Regions from separate parts of the Homo sapiens genome. Here region 2 is linked to region 1. A link means that fine-mapping ties the variant in region 1 to the expression of a gene that starts in the linked region. Tissue or cell type: putamen. Region 1 holds a variant in brackets; the other region holds the start of a gene. All regions are shown on one strand. Distances are from middle to middle. Region 1 has its middle 88 kb from the start of LINC02984. Region 2 holds the start of OPRK1 (opioid receptor kappa 1).

What was found. PIP is the estimated chance that this variant, and not a neighbour inherited with it, causes the effect.
Region 2: OPRK1 starts here. The variant in region 1 is the best candidate, but not a certain one, in a credible set for the expression of OPRK1 in putamen (GTEx, PIP 0.86).

The regions. Positions count from the first base shown.
Region 1 is chr8:53,609,528-53,613,708 of GRCh38, forward strand. No RefSeq gene overlaps it. Among named protein-coding and RNA genes, the nearest start is that of LINC02984, 88 kb to the left of the region's middle. RefSeq lists an enhancer at 7-671. The variant A/C (reference allele first, on the strand shown) is at 1,946.
Region 2 is chr8:53,249,787-53,253,967 of GRCh38, forward strand. OPRK1 (opioid receptor kappa 1) reads right to left here and starts at 1,851. Exons shown (of 4, transcript NM_000912.5): 1 at 1,662-1,851; 2 at 995-1,299. The coding sequence starts at 1,251.

The DNA.
Region 1 (4,181 bases):
TTTAAACTGCAGCCCTGGAAACGTTCACCTAAAAAGACAAGGCCCCTGGGAGTGAACCCTGCAAAGCCAGGGAGCCTGGCAGTGTCTGCGGGTTCGCGATGTATGAAGAGCCTCTGGCAGGTCAGTGGGTGCGTGCACCGTGCACCAGTGAAGCAGGGCGAGGCATTGCCTCACTCGGGAAGCGCAAGGGGTCAGGGAGTTCCCTTTCCTAGTCAAAGAAAGGGGTGACGGATGGCACCTGGAAAATCGGGTCACTCCCACCCGAATACTGCGCTTTTCCGACGGGCTTAAAAAACCGCACACCATGAGATTATATCCGGCACCTGGCTCAGAGGGTCCTACGCCCACGGAGTCTCGCTGATTGCTAGCACAGCAGTCTGAGATCAAACTGCAAGGCGGCAGCGAGACTGGGGGAGGGGCACCAGCCATTGCCCAGGCTTGCTTAGGTAAACAAAGCAGCCAGGAAGCTGGAACTGGGTGGAGCCCACCACAGCTCAAGGAGGCCTGCCTGCCTCTCTAGGCTCCACCTCTGGGGGCAGGGCACAGACAAACAAAAAGACAGCAGTAACCTCTGCAGACTTAAATGTCCCTGTCTGACAGCTTTGAAGAGAGCAGTGGTTCTCCCAGTACGCAGCTGGAGATCTGAGAATGGGCAGACTGCCTCCTCAAGTGGGTCCCTGACCCCTGACCCCCGAGCAGCCTAACTGGGAGGCACCCCCACAGCAGGGGCACACTGACACCTCATACGGCAGGGTACTCCAACAGACCTGCAGCTGAGGGTCCTGTCTGTTAGAAGGAAAACTAACAAACAGAAAGGACATCCACACCAAAAACCCATCTGTACATCACCATCATCAGGGACCAAAAGTAGATAAAACCACAAAGATGGGGAAAAAACAGAACAGAAAAACTGGAAACTAAAATGCAGAGCGCCTCTCCTCCTCCAAAGGAACGCAGTTCCTCACCAGCAATGGAACAAAGCTGGACAGAGAACGACTTTGACGAGCTGAGAGAAGAAGGCTTCAGATGATCAAATTACTCTGAGCTACGGGAGGACATTCAAACCAAAGGCAAAGAAGTAGAAAACTTTGAAAAAAATTTAGAAGAATGTATAACTAGAATAACCAATACAGAGAAGTGCTTAAAGGAGCTGATGGAGCTGAAAACCAAGGCTCAAGAACTACGTGAAGAATGCAGAAGCCTCAGGAGCCGATGCGATCAACTGGAAGAAAGGGTATCAGTGATGGAAGATGAAATGAATGAAATGAAGCGAGAAGGGAAGTTTAGAGAAAAAAGAATACAAAAGAAATGAGCAAAGCCTCCAAGAAATATGGGACTATGTGAAAAGACCAAATCTACGTCGGATTGGTGTACCTGAAAATGACGGGGAGAATGGAACCAAGTTGGAAAACACTCTGCAGGATATTATCCAGGAGAACTTCCCCAATCTAGCAAGGCAGGCCAACGTTCAGATTCAGGAAATACAGAGAACACCACAAAGATACTCCTCGAGAAGAGCAACTCCAAGACACATAATTGTCAGATTCACCAAAGTTGAAATGAAGGAAAAAATGTTAAGGGCAGCCAGAGAGAAAGGTCGGGTTACCCTCAAAAGGAAGCCCATCAGACTAACAGTGGATCTCTTGGCAGAAACCCTACAAGCCAGAAGAGAGTGGGGGCCAATGTTCAACATTCTTAAAGAAAAGAATTTTCAACCCAGAATTTCATATCCAGCCAAACTAAGCTTCAGAAGTGAAGGAGAAATAAAATACTTTACAGACAAGCAAATGCTGAGAGATTTTGTCACCACCAGGCCTGCTCTAAAAGAGCTCCTGAAGGAAGCACTAAACATGGAAAGGAACAACCGGTACCAGCCACTGCAAAATCATGCCAAAATGTAAAGACCATCGAGACTAGGAAGAAACTGCATCAACTAACGAGCAAA[A/C]TAACCAGCTAACATCATCATGACAGGATCAAATTCACACATAACAATATTAACTTTAAATGTAAATGGACTAAATGCTCCAATTAAAAGACACAGACTGGCAAATTGGATAAAGAGTCAAGACCCATCAGTGTGCTGTATTCAGGAAACCCATCTCACGTGCAGAGACACACATGGGCTCAAAATAAAAGGATGGAGGAAGTTCTACCAAGCAAATGGAAAACAAAAAAAGGCAGGGGTTGCAATCCTAGTCTCTGATAAAACAGACTTTAAACCAATAAAGATCAAAAGAGACAAAGAAGGCCATTACATAATGGTAAAGGGATCAATTCAACAAGAAGAGCTAACTATCCTAAATATATATGCACCCACTACAGGAGCACCCAGATTCATAAAGCAAGTCCTGAGTGACCTACAAAGAGACTTAGACTCCCACACAATAATAATGGGAGACTTTAACACCCCACTGTCAACATTAGACAGATCAACGAGACAGAAAGTCAACAAGGATACCCAGGAATTAAACGCAGCTCTGCACCAAGTGGACCTAATAGACATCTACAGAACTCTCCACCCCAAATCAACAGAATATACATTTTTTTCAGCACCACACCACACCTATTCCAAAATTGACTACATACTTGGAAGTAAAGCTCTCCTCACCAAATGTAAAAGAACAGAAATTATAACAAACTATCTCTCAGACCACAGTGCAATCAAACTAGAACTCAGGATTAAGAAACTCACTCAAAACTGCTCAACTACATGGAAACTGAACAACCTGCTCCTGAATGACTACTGGGGACATAACGAAATGAAGGCAGAAATAAAGATGTTTTTTGAAACCAATGAGAACAAAGACACAACATACCAGAATCTCTGGTTTGCATTCAAAGCAGTGTGTAGAGGGAAATTTATACCACTAAATGCCCACAAGAGAAAGCAGGAAAGATCCAAAATTGACACCCTAACATCACAATTAAAAGAACTAGAAAAGCAAGAGCAAACACATTCAAAAGCTAGCAGAAGGCAAGAAATAACTAAAATCAGAGCAGAACAGAAGGAAATAGAGACACAAAAAACCCTTTAAAAAATTAATGAATCCAGGAGCTGGTTTTTTGAAAGGATCAACAAAATAAATAGACCACTAGTGAGACTAATAAAGAAGAAAAGAGAGAAGAATCAAATAGATGCAATAAAAAATGATAAAGGGGATATCACCACCGATCCCACAGAAATACAAACTACCATCAGAGAATACTACAAACACCTCTACGCAAATAAACTAGAAAATCTAGAAGAAATGGATAAATTCCTTGACACATACACTCTCCCAAGACTAAACCAGGAAGAAGTTGAATCTCTGAATAGACCAATAACAGGATCTGAAATTGTGGCAATAATCAATAGCTTACCAACCAAAAAGAGTCCAGGACCAGATGGATTCACAGCCGAATTCTACCAGAGGTACAAGGAGGAACTGGTACCATTCCTTCTGAAACTATTCCAATCAATAGAAAAAGAGGGAATCCTCCCTAACTCATTTTATGAGGCCAGCATCGTTCTGATACCAAAGCCTGGCAGAGACACAACCAAAAAAGAGAATTTTAGACCAATATCCTTGATGAACATCGATGCAAAAATCCTCAATAAAATACTGGCAAAACGAATCCAGTAGCACATCAAAAAGCTTATCCACCATGATCAAGTGGGCTTCATCCCTGGGATGCAAGGCTTGTTCAATATATGCAAATCAATAAATGTAATCCAGCATATAAACAGAGCCAAAGACAAAAACCACATGATTATCTCAATAGATGCAGAAAAGGCCTTTGACAAAATTCAACAACCCTAAGAACTCTCAATAAATTAGCTATTGATGGGACGTATTTCAAAATAATAAGAGCTATCTATGACAAACCCACAGCCAATATCATACTGAATGGGCAAAAACTGGAAGCATTCCCTTTGAAAACTGGCACAAGACAGGGATGCCCTCTCTCACCACTCCTATTCAACATAGTGTTGGAAGTTCTGGCCAGGGCAATTAGGCAGGCGAAGGAAATAAAGGGTATTCAATTAGGAAAAGAGGAAGTCAAATTGTCCCTGTTTGCAGATGACATGATTGTATATCTAGAAAACCCCATTGTCTCAGCCCAAAATCTCCTTAAGCTGATAAGCAACTTCAGCAAAGTCTCAGGATACAAAATCAATGTACAAAAATCACAAGCATTCT
Region 2 (4,181 bases), 360 kb before region 1:
TCGTTTCAGAGTCCCTAGCCAGGGTGACTTGCATCCCGCCCTTATTTCATAGAGACTTCTCAAAGGAACACAAGCTTCCTACTCCCTCTCACAGGTGTGTTGACAAAGCTCTAGTGCTCCCAGAAAAGGAAACACATCTATCTTAAGAAAAGTGCAGAACAAAGTTAGGTTTTCCTTTTCTTGTTTTTCTTTCTTAAAGTCAGAATCACTTTGCTTACCAAAAAATTAGCATATATGTGGATATTGGGATACTTATTATTGGAAGTTGACTTGAAGAAATTTCCACACACACACACACACACACACACACACACAAATAAAACCTTCAATTTCTCATGGTGAAAAAAACAGCGAAGTAGTTTTTGAAAATCTCCACAGGCCATGTTTTAGAGGATAAATATTATTTACTGATATTCCTAACAAATGGGATGCCATTTGATACTAAAAAGGCTCATATATGCATATCAACAACGCTAGAGCATATATCAGGTTTTGTTTCATAAGCCAAAACACCAGTCTGAGGAGTCCCAGGAAATTCGGAATTATCTTCAGTGCATTGGGTGGGCTTGAAATTTATCTTAAGAAATATTTGCAAAGGGCATAACAAAGTGCTCCAAACTGGCGCAGGCAAATGGATTAGTTCCTTTACCAGGAACCCCTGACCCTGTTGTCAGCACCCTGGCACCTTGCCCTGCGCATAGAGTTTTCAGCAGAAACACTGGGCCCTAGGGTGGGGTCGGGGGGTTACTCTGAAATCTTCCAGACGCCCCTGGCCGCTCGGATTCGCCTGTGTGAACCTCTCAGCACTCCACCAAAAACTCCCAGAAAATCCTTCACCTCTTCTAGGAAGCCACCCTGTAGCATTTCCAGGATCCTTCACGGAACAGAGTCCCCACCACCTGGCTGGCTGCCCCCACTGCTGCTCCAGTGGCGGGGCCTGACCCTCACTCCCTGCCCCGCCCAGCCCCCAGCGCTGCGCTGTCCCCGCGCTCACCGGATGATCACGAACATGACCAGCGAGTTGCCCACCAAGCCCACGACGAACACTACGGAGTAGACCGCCGTGATGATGACCGGGATGGCCGGGGAGATGTGCGCGGGCTCCAGCTGCGCGTCCTCCGAGCCGGCGCTGCCGTTGCTGTCGGGCTCGGCCCAGCCGGGAAACCAGGCGCTGCTGTTGGGGGGCAGGCAGGCGCTCGGGGCGCAGGTAGGGCCCGGCTCCCCGCGGAAGATCTGGATCGGGGAGTCCATGGTGGGGCGATTGCAGCAGGAAGGCGAGGACAGGCGGCACCTGCGGCGCTGCGGGAGCGAAAGAACCGGCTGGACGCGGAGAGGCAAACTTTGCCCGCGCCCTGGCCAGCGGCGCTGGGGACCCGGAGCCTGCGGACTCCCACCCGGGCCGCAAGTCGCCGGGGGCAGGACAGGGAGAACGGACTTCTCGCTGCCTTTCCGGCCAGCAGGCGCGCCGCTGGGTGCCAGAGAGGGGCGAAGAGCGCTCGCTCCTTCTCCCCCAGCCCCTGAGGTGCCTCCCTCACCAATTCTAGGCACCGGCCCCTGGTGGAACTGTCCCCAGACTGCCTGAGTCCCCAGGGTCAAGCCCCCTTCCCACCTCCCAGCACGGAGCTCTACCTAGAACTGCACCTCGAAAGCCCAAAGCTTACCTATGGTTCCCAGAGACAGGCGAAGGCGAGGTTTTTTACGGGACGCCCTGGTAGGTGCTGAACCGCGCGCTCACGAGTCCCGCTCAGCTCTTGGCATCACCTGCTCTCGGACCCCGGCCCCGCTCTCCGCCCGAGGGCTGCTGTTCCGCCGAGCGCAGCCCCCGCCTCTCAGCGCACGTCTCCCACTACTGGCGGCGGCTCTGCGGGGCGGGGCGGGGCGGGACCGGCGGGACGCAGCCGGGACGCGGCTGGGCGCTGGGGGCCTGCGGGCGGAGAGCTCGTCTGGTGCGCCCGCCCCAGGCCGGCAGGTCCCTGCCCCGCCCCGCCCGCCCGGAGTCAGCCCCCAGCTCCCCAGCCTCCCAGCCCCGCGTCCCCTCCAGCCCCGCAGGCTCGCCCGGCCCACTAACTGCCCGAGCGGCACACCGCCTGGTCCCCGGCCATGCAGCCTTCCCCAAGACCTGAGACTGAGCCATTTAGATTTAGTAAAAAGGAGGAGCATGCCTATTTAGTGCAAGTATGCACCTGGATTTTCATATTGTGTCTAGAACTTCTTATCTGCATAGTTCGCAGTCAGGAACTACGCTTATTAGAATGGCCCATCCAAAGAAAGTAACAAAATGATCCAGTTAGAATAAGACCAGTTCATAAAATAATGACTTAAAAGACACATAAATAGAATATTTCCTTGCGTTCTCTTCCATTCCGTCTGCTCTAACTGGGATGACAGGCTGCAGACAAACTGCACCTTACGGGTATTACCTGAATTGCTGATAGTATCTGAGAAGGGCAAAACACTCTCCTTACCCGGGCCTCAGTGGTGCTCCAGGGAGGTGACAGTGTCTCTGTTTTACATTAATCCCTGCAGCCATCACGTTCTCCTCACTTCTCCCTCACAGTAGGGCTGCCTCCATTATACGGCCGCGAATCTGAGCGTCCGTAAATAAACTGTCACCATCATTTCTTTGCAAAACTCTGCTAGTCCAAGGGTAGCTGTCAGATCCTGCTGAGTGAGAGACATTCTCTTCTCAGGCAAAGGGACCGGCAAGACACAAAGGGAGCAAGGGCTCAGCCCCTGAGGTGAAGGTTCTGAAAGGGAGTGGGGAAGTTCCCCTTCTCCACAGGGTACTGGAGACAGGCCTGGGGGAGACTGGGGGTTTAGGCACCTCAATTTCCCCAGTGGATTCACTGCCTCAGGCTGACAAACACAGGTCCCCACTGCATCCCACAGCTAATGTCCATGCCACACCTGGACACACTAATGACTGATACAGCCCTTCCCTCCATCAGCGGAGGGCAGAAGGGGGTTCCTGTCTCTTTCAAGACGCCATGACCCCAAAGTGGGATTTGACCACCAGCGTCTTGCCGCCTGGAGATGAACAACTCTTTTGAGCAGTGTAATATGAAGAGCATAAGGAAATCTTCCCTTTGTTCAACCATATCCCTTCAACCCTTTCAAATAATTTTGAAAATTATTATCAAGTCTTAGAGTTCTTTTAAGTCTGATTGCAAACTGTCATTGAAGGATCACATCTCCTTCAGTAACACATCAGACCTGCTGAGACCTCATAAGGGCCTCAGTAGTTTTATTTCATTTGAGCACTCTTACCTTTCTTGTTTACCAAATTAATGGCCAAAATAAAGGGAAGACAAAATGAACAGAGCATTGAGAAGCCCTCAGGTGGCTCAGGTTGCCAGGGGAACCCACTCGAGTCTCTAAATCCAGGAAGTATGGCTGCTTCTGTGGAGTCATGCTCTTAGGAGTATGCAATTTTATCATAATATCAGATAAAAGCTCATAAAATAGAAAGGAAAAGTAAACTGCTAAAATGCTATATACTGTTACACACTGATATAAAGCACATGTGGTTATACTTGGCCATTCTACTCAATGCAAACACTATGCTTATAACTAAGTACATGGAAAGCACTTTTAAAGATGAAAATGTGGAGATTTTTATTGGATAATGCTACAATGCTAAGGAGCATCCTGGGTAGTGGGTGGCTTTGACATTTTTGTTAGATAGACTAGATAACCCACCAGTAAATTGCAATTAACTCCCTTTCTTGTGGCTCCAACAACAGATATTGTTGTGCAGCAATGAGTGCAGAGCTGGAGGGAGCAACTTCATTAGCTTAAGACCCCAGTGCAGCCAATGGAGTCTTGCTGAGCCGGGATGCAGCTGGCTTCAGCTCACTTCACTCAGCAGATATTGCAGAGTATCCCCAAGTGGCTGAAGAAAAGGCACCCTCTGGGGATACAACAATACCAACACAGAGACAATCTCTTCTCAAAGAGGATGTGAAGCTAGTGTGACACATGGGATCTAAATTTTTTTAATGTTAGGAATAATTAATAAATAATTAATAACAAATTCATCCAACTCTGGCAAATGTTATGTGGAAAGGTGTTTAATAAACAGTGATAGCCAGTGCAGCAAATTTGCATGAAATTTAAAAATAGCATCCCTTTCATAAGGCACTTTACTTAGATCTGTCAGCAAGTTGTTATAATAAATACCC